Regions from separate parts of the Homo sapiens genome. Here regions 1 and 3 are each reported to be linked to region 2. The links are microRNA targets in miRTarBase. Many come from high-throughput screens and were not tested one by one. Region 2 holds a microRNA gene; each other region holds the end of a gene's coding sequence.
The links. The annotated mature microRNA hsa-miR-539-3p reads AUCAUACAAGGACAAUUUCUUU and lies in region 2 at 2,583-2,604, shown strand. An mRNA with a match to its seed (bases 2 to 7 or 8) in the 3' UTR can be bound and repressed. Matches are read on the target gene's strand: a 7mer-m8 pairs with bases 2 to 8, a 7mer-A1 pairs with bases 2 to 7 and ends in A, and an 8mer does both.

Region 1: the mRNA of GRHL1 is a reported target of hsa-miR-539-3p. Seed matches in the 3' UTR shown: 7mer-A1 at 2,690-2,696.
Region 3: the mRNA of QSOX2 is a reported target of hsa-miR-539-3p. Seed matches in the 3' UTR shown: 7mer-m8 at 2,356-2,362.

The regions. Positions count from the first base shown.
Region 1 is chr2:9,999,829-10,004,023 of GRCh38, reverse strand. GRHL1 (grainyhead like transcription factor 1) reads right to left here. Exons shown (of 16, transcript NM_198182.3): 16 at 1,747-3,431. The coding sequence ends at 3,317. LOC124905970 (a long non-coding RNA gene) reads left to right here and starts at 524. Exons shown (of 2, transcript XR_007086207.1): 1 at 524-1,097.
Region 2 is chr14:101,044,787-101,048,981 of GRCh38, forward strand. It overlaps MIR539 (microRNA 539), which reads left to right and starts at 2,535; the gene lies at 2,535-2,612. It overlaps MIR381HG (MIR381 host gene), which reads left to right and starts at 371. Exons shown (of 3, transcript NR_104192.1): 1 at 371-398. MIR381 (microRNA 381) reads left to right here and starts at 1,134; the gene lies at 1,134-1,208. MIR487B (microRNA 487b) reads left to right here and starts at 1,669; the gene lies at 1,669-1,752. It also overlaps MIR889 and MIR544A. RefSeq lists enhancers at 979-1,479, 1,480-1,980.
Region 3 is chr9:136,205,006-136,209,200 of GRCh38, forward strand. QSOX2 (quiescin sulfhydryl oxidase 2) reads right to left here. Exons shown (of 12, transcript NM_181701.4): 12 at 1,328-4,195. The coding sequence ends at 3,723. LHX3 (LIM homeobox 3) reads right to left here and starts at 123. Exons shown (of 6, transcript NM_178138.6): 1 at 1-123. The coding sequence starts at 7. RefSeq lists enhancers at 3,430-3,981, 3,982-4,195.

The sequences.
Region 1 (4,195 bases), not on the chromosome of region 2:
CCCCTGCTCTCCCCGTCTTTCCTGCACTCTCAGCAATGGGATGGGCTGACTGATGCCCTGTGGGCTGGAAAGCTGACCACAGTTGCTGCAGACCAGACCCCCTCACATAGTGAGTGCTGGGCTGAGGAATCCAGGAGAGCCCGAGGGGGGACACTGAAGGTGTATCGTTGGCCCTGCCAGCTGCAAGTGAACTGCTTCTGATGAATTTTAATAGGGAGAAAGAAGTATTTGCTAAGAATGGCAATCCTGATGCTCAGCCTTCAACTCATCTTGTTATTAATACCATCAATATCCCATGAGGCTCATAAAACGAGTCTTTCTTCTTGGAAACATGACCAAGATTGGGCAAACGTCTCCAACATGACTTTCAGCAACGGAAAACTAAGAGTCAAAGGCATTTATTACCGGAATGCCGACATTTGCTCTCGACATCGCGTAACCTCAGCAGGCCTAACTCTGCAGGACCTTCAGCTATGGTGTAATTTGAGGTCAGTGGCCAGAGGACAGATCCCGTCTACATTATGAGTGAAGCGGAGAGCTACTGCAGGGTTCTGAGCAGAGTCCTAATTTATATTTTAGAAGAATCATCATGGCTCCTAGATTAGGAATAAAACGAAGGGGCCCAGGGATGGAAACGATGAGTCCAGTTGGGTTACTGCAAAGATCCAGGCCAGAAATCCAGGCACAGTGGCACACACCTGAGTCCCAGATAATTCCACCTACTGGTCCTGCTCTGTGGCCTACTGGTCCGAGTCCAGCCCCGACTGATTTCTGGGCCTGTAATGTCTAAAAACGCTCCCTGCTGATGTTTTGCAAGTGACTGTGTTACTTGAAGGCAGTTCCTAGGATAAACTAGTCGCTTTATCATTACAGAATCATTCACTGAGCATCAACTATGTAACCAGCATTGGGTTGGGTGCCAGAGATCCAAAGCTAAGACACCAAAACCTGCTCTCCAGGAAACGAGAGGCTGAGAAGAGGGCCAGCAGGTGTCTGTCAGTACTTGGAGCCGTGAGAGCAGGGAGTGGGTGCTGGGCTGAGGAACCAGAGGTAATGGCCCTGGGGACGCCCGGGAAGAGATGAGTTTTGAGGCAAAGGTAAGTCCCGGGAAGCCAGGGGGTGAAGGAGACCCATGGTGTGAGGAAGGGCTCCCATAGAAAGGATGCGCTGGCAGGGTCCCCAGGCTTCCTGTGTGGAGCTGGACTCTGGAAGCACTGAGTGAACGGGAACCCAGGCTGCAGGAGAGTCTCCACTTTGGCCCGAGGGTTACTGTGAAAAGTGCAGATGTCCCAGGAGCCCTATCAGGGAGTTTACGTCATTAATCTGATCTTGTATCCATTAAAAATATATCCTAGTGTCTATCATATTTAGGCCCTGGATTACCCTGGAATATGTTCAGGACGCCTGTTTTAGAGATTCTAATGATTTAAATATTGGTAAATTTTTAAACTAAGTATTTTCTGTTAGGCTTTTAAACACTAAGAATACTAAGATTTTAGGTATGAAAGCATTTACCTTCAGCTTTAGTGGTTAAATTTTGGTAAGAATTGGAAAATCATTCAGGGATCCCTGACTTAACAATTACGTGGATCATTTCAGGCATCAGTAAGGAAAAGTTAACATGAAGAAAACAACCTAAGCGCACACATTAAGAAATAAGCAGAAAGTGCTAGCAATGAGATGCTTTTCAGCTCTCACGTTTTACTGAGCAGTGCAAAGTCAAATTGAAAAACAGGAAATGACATATTACGAAATAGACATATAAAATTTAATTCCTTTGGTTTAAAATACATCTTCAATGATACAATTAAAAATAACACGCAAGACAAAATCAACTTCATAAAAAATACAAAAGTTATATGACCCATATCCCATATCTTATCTTAGAAAACCAGCAATTTAGTTCCCATACTTCATTAGAATACTTTAACCTAAGACTGTAACTACCAGTCCATTTACACGAATGACCTAGTCTAGTTCCCTGAACCTAAAGATACCCGTGACTTTGTTATAAAATTACATATTTTAGTATTTTTATATACTTAAATGTGTACAAAATGTTCCCCTGCCATAGTAACATATTTTTGTGAATTCATGAATGTTTTCTAGAATTGTTAACATACAAGATAATCAAAGCACGAAGGCTCTGATGCGTGATAAAATAATCATTTCTCAAAACAGGAAGATGAGAACTGCATTTCGAGTTGTATCACTTGGTACGCAATACTTGCAATCTGTGTGCTGTAATTACAGTGTTTCTTCACTCTAAGTGCATCTGACTGATACTAGCATAACAAAAGACGTGATTGCAGTAGTGTTTTTCTTTTACTTCATTTGTTAAACAGTGCAGAAATCCAAATAACAACATTCTCAACAGCAAACAGAATCTCTGTCATTTGAGAAGGTTTTGCTATGCTACAGAATGCCTGTGTTTGGAAAAACAGAGAAAAAGGTTTTTAGCGGGTTCCACTAAGCACAGTATTCTATCTGCTTGGTATACACGATCAAAAAATAACTTAACCTTTGTCTAGGGAAAGTCTTTAAGGTAGCTCTTACTGCATATCTTCACTATATGTACACAGACACCATATTTATATATTATATATTTATATAAGACATGTATGTACACATTTACAGACCTTCAAAAATATATTGCACTTATATACAATGCAGCTTTATCTTAACTGATTTCATACTGTAACCCATTAAAATTCTTCATGAGAAAGGCAGTTGATATGTCCGAGAAAGTCGCAAAGGAAGATTTCAGTAACATGCCCTGTTTAGTAAACATCTGGTGGAGAGTGAGAGGGTAAGGGAGAGAGGGCTCCCCCCGTACTCTTCAGGTGCGCTCCCGCTAACGTGAGGCAGTGGAGTTGTACTGAATTCAGGCAAGGGCACGAAATCCTTAAAGCCAAGCCTATCGCCTTTTCTGACTTCTGCTAGCGAGCAGGCCCACGACACTGTAGGCACAAGGCAGAGATCCCAATATTTTGATAAATAACGTAGCAGATGTCCTAAAGCTTCCCAGAGACTCTGTTAACTCTTGGAATAAAGTTTTCACTTTAAATCCTGTATATATCAGGAAATTCAAACATAATGGTATATGGATTTCTCTTTCATCTGAAAAACACCAATGCAATAGATTAAATGCTACCACCAAGCCAGATGCAGCCCCGCCTCCAACCTGCAAGGAACCCATTCCCTCGACATAGACCTGTGCTGGCGACATGGCTGACTGGGGTTACCTGCAGTTGCCAAACCGTAAGATCTAGAAACACCTGCACTGAACTCCTGGGGAGCTGTGGCCCGCAGGCCTTTAGATCTCCGTCAGGGTGAGCTTGTAAGACCCCCCGGCTTCTTCAATCTGCAGCTGGAAGGTGTCCTCATTGGAGTAATGCTTCACAATGTTGTCGTCCATGTTCACCAGGATCCTGGATGGGGGGGGACAAGACCAACCAACTTCACTGCCACTTGGTCCTGGAGTCAGACCTAGATTGACCTGTTAGCTCTCCCACTTACTAGTTGCAGCATGTGAGGCAAATTATTTAAATCTCCTTAAGCCTCAACTTCCTCATCTATAAAATGGGGATAATAATAGTACCCATCTTATAGGATTGCTGAGAGAATTGAGTTAGGAGGAAATCAGGTGATATATTTATATCATAGCATTTGGAAAATGAAATATACTGGCTTATTTATGATTATTATTTCCAGCATGTATTTCATAGTTGTCACTTGGTAAATGGTACTTGGCTCATACCTGTGATGCCAGCACTTTGGGACGCTGAGGCAGGAGAATCACTTGAGCCCAAGAGTTTGAGACCAGCCTGGATAACATAGCAAGATCCCATTTCTACAGAAAAATTTTAAAAACTAGCTGGACATGGTGGTACATGCCTGTAGTCCCTGCTACTTGGGAAGCTGAGGTGAAAGGATGGCCTGAGCCCAGGAGTTCAAGGCTACAGTGAGCTCTGATTGCACCACTGTACTCCAGCCTGGGCGATAGAGTGAAACCATCTCTAAATGAATAAAGCAAAAGCACATCAATAACACTAACTTACATGATGTGAAGTCACAGCCCCCTGACAAATTACACACTCCAGCAAGTGAGCCTCAAAGTTTAAATGAACTACTATTATCAAACAAAAAATAAAGAATACAAAAACAAGAAAATAAACAAAAATAAATTAACTAC
Region 2 (4,195 bases):
GGGTGTTCATGATCCAGCTCGCAGTCCCCAGGCTGAATCTGTAAGAATGGTTTGCTTCTATTTGTCATTTGTGATTGCCCATGAAGGCAGCGCTGGGGATGAGCCGTGGGAGCTGTCAGCCCCGCACCAGGTGCGTGCATGTGGGAGGTCAGAGGGCGCCTGCTTCTGCCTCGATGTCTGTGCCCCGTCTCTGACTGCTGGCTTTCTGCTCACACCTAGGATGGCTGCCTGAGAATGGGACTCTTGTTCTGTGTTTGTGGAGACACTCCTTGGGCCGTGTGACTGCCGGCTTTTTACACCCCGACTGCCATGGGGGTCATCTGGACCCGAAGCCAGCTTCAGGAAGGACATTCGCAGCATCCTCAGCCCAAGGAAAGCGAACGTCCAGCTGAAGAGAGGTGAGCACCACGCCTGGGTAATGAGTCACATAACCTGCCACCTGGACCAGGCGGCTCCCGCTCCTCTCCCCTTCTTGAAGGAGAGACCACTGTGGGGAATGGGCTGTGGGTCTGCTTCCTCAGTTACTTGGGGGTACGTGGGGTTTACTACTGTTGACCCTGTGCTCTTTCTTAGCATGGCTTCATGGCCACGATGCCAGCCTCTGGCAGGGGTGGGGCAAGGGCTGGCATGGAGAATGACACTGGTGTCAACGGCTCTGTGAGATGGATGAAGGGATGGTGACCACAGGGCCTTTGCTTTGTCTAAGGTGTAAATTCATCCAGTGCCTGGGACCTCGGTGCTGAGTGCATCCTTAGGAAAACTTCCTGGAGAGGTGCCCACACTGGGAAGGAGATGGTGGTCCCACCCCAGGGAATTCCTATAGAAAGTGAGAAGCTGAGCTCTGCGTGTGCCCAGGAAGGCCCGTGGGGTGGATCTCCTTTTCAGGAACAAGTTCTAATCTGGAGTGATGCCTGGAAAAGAGGCTGATTCTGGTGAAGGGGCACTGGCGTCTGCCCCTTCCTGGCCCCTTTGGGATGGAGAGCTGACCTATGGGCACACAGCTGGCAGGTGGTGTTTGCCACCTGGTCTGCTGATCCCGCATCTCCCACCCCCTCCCCCGCCAGGATGAACCCCGGGAGAGGAGGCCGGCCCCGTGAATGATAGTGAGGAACCTGCCCAGTGCTATTGTTTGGTACTTAAAGCGAGGTTGCCCTTTGTATATTCGGTTTATTGACATGGAATATACAAGGGCAAGCTCTCTGTGAGTATCAAACCTTGTCTTGGACCCAGTCCACACTCAGCAAGGGATGCGGTATGTGTGTGCATGACCGTGTGTATCCGTTTTGTGTGTGGCAAATCGTTCACGGGTCCCCACTTCACAGAGAGGACTTCACGGGCACCTGGATGACTTTAGGGAAGGCAGTGGCCTCTGGGACATCCCCTCTCCTGGTGCAGTGTGGGCGGGGCCAAAAGCATGCACGATGTGTGTGGTCTGGGTCCCTGCTTCCTGAGCGGGAAGTCATCAGCCCGGGCCGATGGCTGGGGTGGCGCTCGTGTGGGGTAGTGGCTTTGTGGTCCCTGCTGTTACTCGGTCCGTGAGTGTGCATGTTCTGCTTGGGGTATGTGACCCGGTCCACTAACCCTCAGCATCTAATTCATCCCCAGGACCGCGCCTTGAAGACGTACCAAGTCCACCCAAGGCAGTGGCTTTCTTTTCCGTGCTAACCTTTGGTACTTGGAGAGTGGTTATCCCTGTCCTGTTCGTTTTGCTCATGTCGAATCGTACAGGGTCATCCACTTTTTCAGTATCAAGAGCGCAGACTCTGGAGCTCGATTTCCTGTGTTTGGATCCCACCTCTGACATTTACTAACCGTCCAACCTTGGGCAAGGATCTCATCGTGCTGTGCCCATTGTCTCACATGTCAAAGGGGAATCACATTGGCGTCCATTTCTTGGGGCTGCTGGGGCTGAACGAGTTAAGACTTGTACACGGCTCAGAGCAGAGCCCCGTGGTCGGCACTTCGTAGGTGGTAGCCAGGACCCTTGTGTGCTGTGAAACTATCATTGGTGGTGGTGGTGGTGGTGGTGGTGGTGGTTTTATGACTAAAATCTCTCCATGGGTTTTTGGAACAGTGTCAAAACATGGAAGTCAAGTCCTTCATCGGGTATGGAATGGACTAGGAAGCCCAGAGCATACACGGTGTTTACAATGGGGGCTAGTGATGCTCTTGATGCTTGGCAGCTAAGCCATTCACACAGTGGCTTTTGATACAGAATGCCACATGCAGTGGGGGTCAGCAGGGGTGCCGAGAACATTTGCTCCACTTAAGAGAGACAGTCCCTGGGTTCTTGACCTCGGCCACTATCTACGCTTTGAAGGAGTCTTGAGCGAGGATGCCAAGCTGAGTGAGGATTCTATGGCATCTTGCTTCCCTGGTGCTTAAAGAGAGGTCAAACTTGGTGCATGCATTGTGCATGCCTGTGTGTGCGTGGTGTGTGTGCATGAGCGAGTGTGTGACTGGGTTTGCCACGAAGCAGTCACCATCTAACCTTGAGCCAAAGACCTGGAGGTGGTGGTCCGTGCTGCTGTTTCATACTTGAGGAGAAATTATCCTTGGTGTGTTCGCTTTATTTATGATGAATCATACAAGGACAATTTCTTTTTGAGTATCAAATCTTGCCTCGGCAGACTTCCTGGACGCCATGACAAGTTCTGTAAAGGGATGCACGCATCAGCCCTTCCCAGGGGCTCACGCCTGGGTGGGGATGAGGGCGCATGCAGTTGGTTTGTGGTGGGGACACTTGTGCCCTAACCTCAGAACCCTGGAGGCGGGGCCACGCTTGGCAGGGGGCCACGGGACTCCTTGGTGCTATCAGGGATTTGCATTGGCCATGGGTGTGTGTTGTGGGTGACGCAGCATTCAAGCTACTTATCAAATCCTGCTTCTTGGAGGCACTTCTTGGACATGAAGCAAACCTTAGGGACCGATCATTGGGGCCAGACCCCCTTCCCCTGCCCAAGAGTGTGACTGACCCCCAGGCATGGGCTTGACTCTCAATGTGTGAAGCTGACCTGCTAATCCTCATTGTTTGGACTACCTGAGAAGAACTTTCTGGAAGAGACACCAACTTTGGAGAAGATGCCCAGCTCTTCTTGATGGCACAGTTCTTTGGTGCTTAAAGAATGGCTGTCCGTAGTATGGTCTCTATATTTATGATGATTAATATCGGACAACCATTGTTTTAGTATCCAAATTTGCTTCAGAAGTTTTTGAAAGCACAGTGCTGACTTCAGTGAGGGGACATTGGTGCCTGCCCCACCATGGAGTGTGACTGTGTTGATGATTTATAATGATGAATCCAGTGATCTCAGAATGCAAGCCACCAGTGTGATTTCCTTGGACAAATGCTAGCTTTGGGGTGGAGATGCCATTTAGGGGCTTGGTGCCATATCTTTTTATTGGAAGATGTTCACAATTATTTCATCTCTCTTTCTCTTCTTGTTATTAAATCTTAGCCACGAGGAATTCCTTGGAGAGATGCCGGGGTCAAGCCTCTCTCTAGGTAGATGGTGGACCGGGGAACCTGGGTCCAGCCTCTCCTATCTGTAGCCTTCATTCTGAGTATGAAACACTTCCTGTAGGGAATGCAAACATTAGTAAAAACTCCGTACATTTCCTGTTACTATTACTACTTTTTGGCAGCTCCTAAGCAGCTGCCTGTTGGGTATTTGGATTATTCTTGGTGGACGTGGCATGGCTTCGTGCCTTCCTTGGGAACCACCCCATCTTAGACAGACTCTCATGGAATAAGACGTTGTGGTCGACAGCACCTCTGGGGTGTGTGTGTGTGTGTGTGTGTGTTTGTGTGCGTGTGCATATGAATAGTTGGCTAGAGTAGTGTTTCTCAAACTTTAAAAATGCTCCTAAGATTTTCATCACCTAGGGATCTTGTTAAAAAGCAGATTCTGATTCAGGGACCAAGATTCTGCATTTTTAGCAAGTTCTCAAGTGATGCTAATACCGCCGGTCTGTGGACAACACTCACAGTGGTTTGGGGCTGGAGACCAGGTGCTTTCCCTGTGATATGTGTCGCCTGTCTCCCCACATGCCATATACCGTCCATCGTGGGAGAACGGCCCAGAATCAACGTGCCATGTTTTGGTTTGTGAACAAGGGTTCACTTTCACATGCGTAAATAGCATGAGATTACTTTTCTTTAAAATCAAATCATGCCTCAAAGGGCTTCCCAGAT
Region 3 (4,195 bases), not on the chromosome of region 2:
GCAGCATCGCGGCCACCAGGCCGAGTGGCGCGAGACGCGCTCCTCCTAGGTCAGCGTCCCCTGGAGGGTTCGGGGCTCCCAAGTCCCGCCGCGTCGTGCGGGGCAGGGAGCCCGGGAGCCACTGGGCCTGGCGCTGTCCGCGGTGCTGAAGGAGGCGCCCGCTGCCCGCCCCGCCCGCGCGCCCGCCCACCTCCCGGGGCCCCTCTCGTCGCCCCGGTCCCCACCCCCGCCTCTGCCCCGTGTCGGGCGCGCCTCCCTCCCTGGCTGGGTTGGGCCGCACTCAAGGCAGCCCCCGCCCTCACCCCTCTGAGACCCAGGGTGGCCGTGCCCGCTCCTCCCTAAGCTCCAGGCCCTGCTGAGGCGCTGGGATTCGCCGAGTTTCGCAGCAAGCGGGTCGTCCAGCCGCAGGGCAGGAGGACACTGACCCTACCCTTCTGGCGTGCAGCCTCTGGAAGGCAGTGCCCAGGCCGTGCCCCGGGGCAGCCCCATGCGTGATCAACTCCAGCCCAGGGCTCACTGGGGCACTCTCCTGCAGGTGTTTTGCTGGTCAGGGAACTTTCCACTCTTAACCTCCTTGAACTCAACCCCCAACTTCTGGGAGGAGCTCAGCCCGCACCCCTCCGGGCTGCCAGGAGGAGAGGCACCTGCAGTCCCCTGTAACAAAAGCACTGCTGAGGACTCAAGACCTTGGGCATAGGCAGGGCCTGAAGGAATCGCCCAGTACACACCCAGGCTGGTGTCTGCTCGGTGCCTGACGAGTGACTGAGTTACTGCCAGCCTCTGCACAGCCTGGCCAGGGAGGTGCCAACCGGCTTCCTCCACAGCCACAGGCAAGACTGTTGACCACTGCCCTGCCCCCACTGGCACAGCAAAAGTAGGGGAGGGGCAGAAGACAACACGGGGTCAAGGGCACCCCACAGAACACCACAAACAGCCTTAGCAGGACACTCACACCCAGGAAGCAGAGGGATGGCCACTCAAGCAAGCTGGGGGTCCTCTGAGGTGCCCTCAGGCTGGGCTGCCGCGCGTGCTCTTTGAAGTGTGTAGCTGACATGCATCTCAGCTGCCCTTTAACCTGTGTAAAATCAAGGGTCTTGTCCTGTGAGTCTCGTCCAGATCAGCTCCAGGGAGATGATCTATCACTGCTTTCCATCTTCTACTTTCCATCCGACCCTTGGGCTGTGTCCCAAAAGCCAATGATTCGATAGGAGAAACTCTAGGATTTCAGATGTCCAGTACGTGAACAAAAGAGGGGTCCATTCTGCACCCACCGCCTCTACCACAACTCCCACTGGTAGAGCTGGTTCACATTTCAAAAGAATCACCATTTTTTCAAATGTCAGATTTCTTTATTAAAATGTGCACATTATAGTTTACTTAAATACAAAATGTTCACTTTCCTTGCAGGTAAGAAATTTCACTGACATTTCCATGTCAATTAGCTTCTTTTTAATAAAAATCCTTCCACTGAAAATAAATAAGCATTTAAATTACTGAACTATTATATTCATTAGTCTCAATACCTCTTAAAATACTTAAAACTTTAGAAAATAGACTCTAAACATTGCCTAAAGGTGGCATCCAGCTCTGAGCAGGCCACACAAGGTGTGTCTGAGTATGGCCATATGACTCCTGGGGCCACCTCCACGACGGCCCAGCCCCACCGACGCTCTGCTGAAAATCCTGCCCCTCAGCAGGACGCAAGCTTGTTCCCCAAATAGTGGTGACCTCAAACTGCAATATGATGAAACCTGCAGCCAACACTGCCCTCCACAAGGGTTTCTGGAAAGGCTGAAGCTGGAGACGGTAAACCACAACACCGTCCCAGGTCACTCCAGGTCACCCCAGCTAAAGACATTCAACACCAGCCAAAAGGCTAAAGTTTAGTTTGAAGGGTTCAAAGGCAAATACACTGAAACCCACGTGTAAACCTGCCTGGTTTTCAAACTGGAAGAGAAACACTTTGGTGTCTTCAATAACCCAGGCCTGCACTGGATGAAGCAATGAAGGCAAGGTCACGGCTGCTAAAGCACAGAGGGGTTAAAAAGTGTGAAACCAGAAGCAACTCTCGAGTGAGACACGAAGCAGCAGGCTGACGCACCAGACACCGCTCCCACCAGACACCTCTCCCGCCAGCTGCAGGGCCCTGGGCAGCGTTCTCAGCCCAGCCATTCTGTGACAGTTGTTGAAAGAATCAGCTGTTGCCTTTTTTTCTCAAGCGACAACAATCACATCAATATTACATGGTCTTATGAATACATCCATGTCATCAACTTGTTAGTAAACACATGATTATACAACATAAAGTAGGCAAAGCGGAAAAAATATCTACAACCGTCAAAGTCTCTCTCTCTCTCATACACACACACACACACACACACACACACACACACACACGGGCACACAAATACATCTGAGCCTATTTTAGCCAAATCAAATTTTGCCTGTGAGACACACCAATAGCCACAAAGAATCTCAATATAAATGTTCCCAGAAATAGTGTATTTGTTTGTTTACATCTTCAGAGGCAACGGACCACTAAATGTTTTGGGTTTAAAAACAATGTTTAAAATTATCAAATGGTAAAAGACATCATGACAAAAGCTTGGGAGATCAGTGCCTGTGTGGAGACCCTTCCCAAAACAGCTTCAGGCAAAGGAAGCCTGGCCCCCTCCGTGGGCCGAGTGAGATGCTTGTGTGTGCAGCAGGTGCCTCTGTGGTGCTGGGTGAAGAGCAGACGACAGGGGGGGCTTTAGAAGTCTCCCTGGGGCCTACGCTCCCAAGGGCAGACTGCTCTCCTCCCCATCCCCCAACAGAGGGGCCTGTGCTCTAAGCACTGCCCGCTGAGCCCAGAGCTGCCCTCCAGGCACCCGCCGTCCCAACGGCCCCCATTTACTTGTCTCTCTCTTGTCACCAGATAGACAGACAAAGGCGCTGCCTCTGAGGGTTAAATGAGCCCCCATCCTTCCAACCCCCAGGTCCACAGCCCAAGGCCTCTGGGGGTTATTTTCTGAAACGCAGCACAGCCACAGAATTCCTTGGCTCCTCCCCTGTTGAAATCCCCACGTCTGGTGTCGAACACCCGGAGGAACAAGGAGAGCCCTCAGGAACCTGCCCTAGGGAAGCAGCTACAAACACAGGATAGTCCCTGGAGCACTTGCTTGGAGGGGCTGCAGAGGCCGACTGCGCTTCCGGCTCTGTCTGTCCCCGCCCGGCTAAAGGAAAACACTTGGCAGCCTGGAGCAGGGGGCGTGGGGGGAGCGGGGGGAGGGGGAGCGAGGGGAGTGGGGGGGAGCCAGGAGCCGCGGGGGGGATGGGCGAGGTTCTCCAAATACAAAAACAAGGCCCTGCAGGATGGGGCGGAGTGGAGGAAACGAGATGAAAGTGTGTGGGGAAGACTATCTGGCCTGGACTCTGCACCCTCTTTTCACATCTAGAAGAGTAAAAATACAGAAGTCTTTTTGCTGTAAGACCTGCAAAAGGAGCATGAACAGACTTGAGTACGCCAGGAATGCAAATATCCCCACAAAATTACCCCGTGTTCTTCCCTTGTTAGAAGAGCGTTTGTAAAACCAGGACTTTGAAGCCAAAAGGTGCCATCCGATGTGAAACCAGGCCCGCATGTTTATAAAATCCCTGATCATAAATATTAAAGCTGCAGGTGGCACGGGGCAGGGCTGCCTCCAAGGGAGCTTCCGCCGTGGCTGGCAGCACCCGGGCACTCACACGGCCGGGTGGTGGTGCTTGACCTTCCACCGCCTGGACCTCACCCGGAAGAAGAAGTACATCACCATGAGGAACAGGGATGAAGCCACGTACAGCACGACACAGAGACTCATGTCCAGGCTGGAGAAGTCAACCCCGAGGAAGGGTGCGGCCCCGCCCACCTCCTTGTGGGCCCCGGGCCCATCCAGACTCTGGAGTTTCCCGTCCAAGCTGTGATGCAAGCTCTCTGGAAGGGCAGGCCTGGGGCCCAGTGCACCAGGTGGACGGACGCTCTGGGTGTCTCGGTCTCCATGGGACACCTCTGGGGGAGTGAGTCTTTTCTCCTCTTCCTCACCCCTGGCCAGGGTTCCTCCTTCACTGGAATCCCCCTGGTCTGCGGAATACGTGTCTAAGAGGTTGTCGCGGCCATAGTGCTGCTTCAAGAATGTGAGCACGTGGCCTTCATCCCAGCTGGCCAGGCCCTTAATTT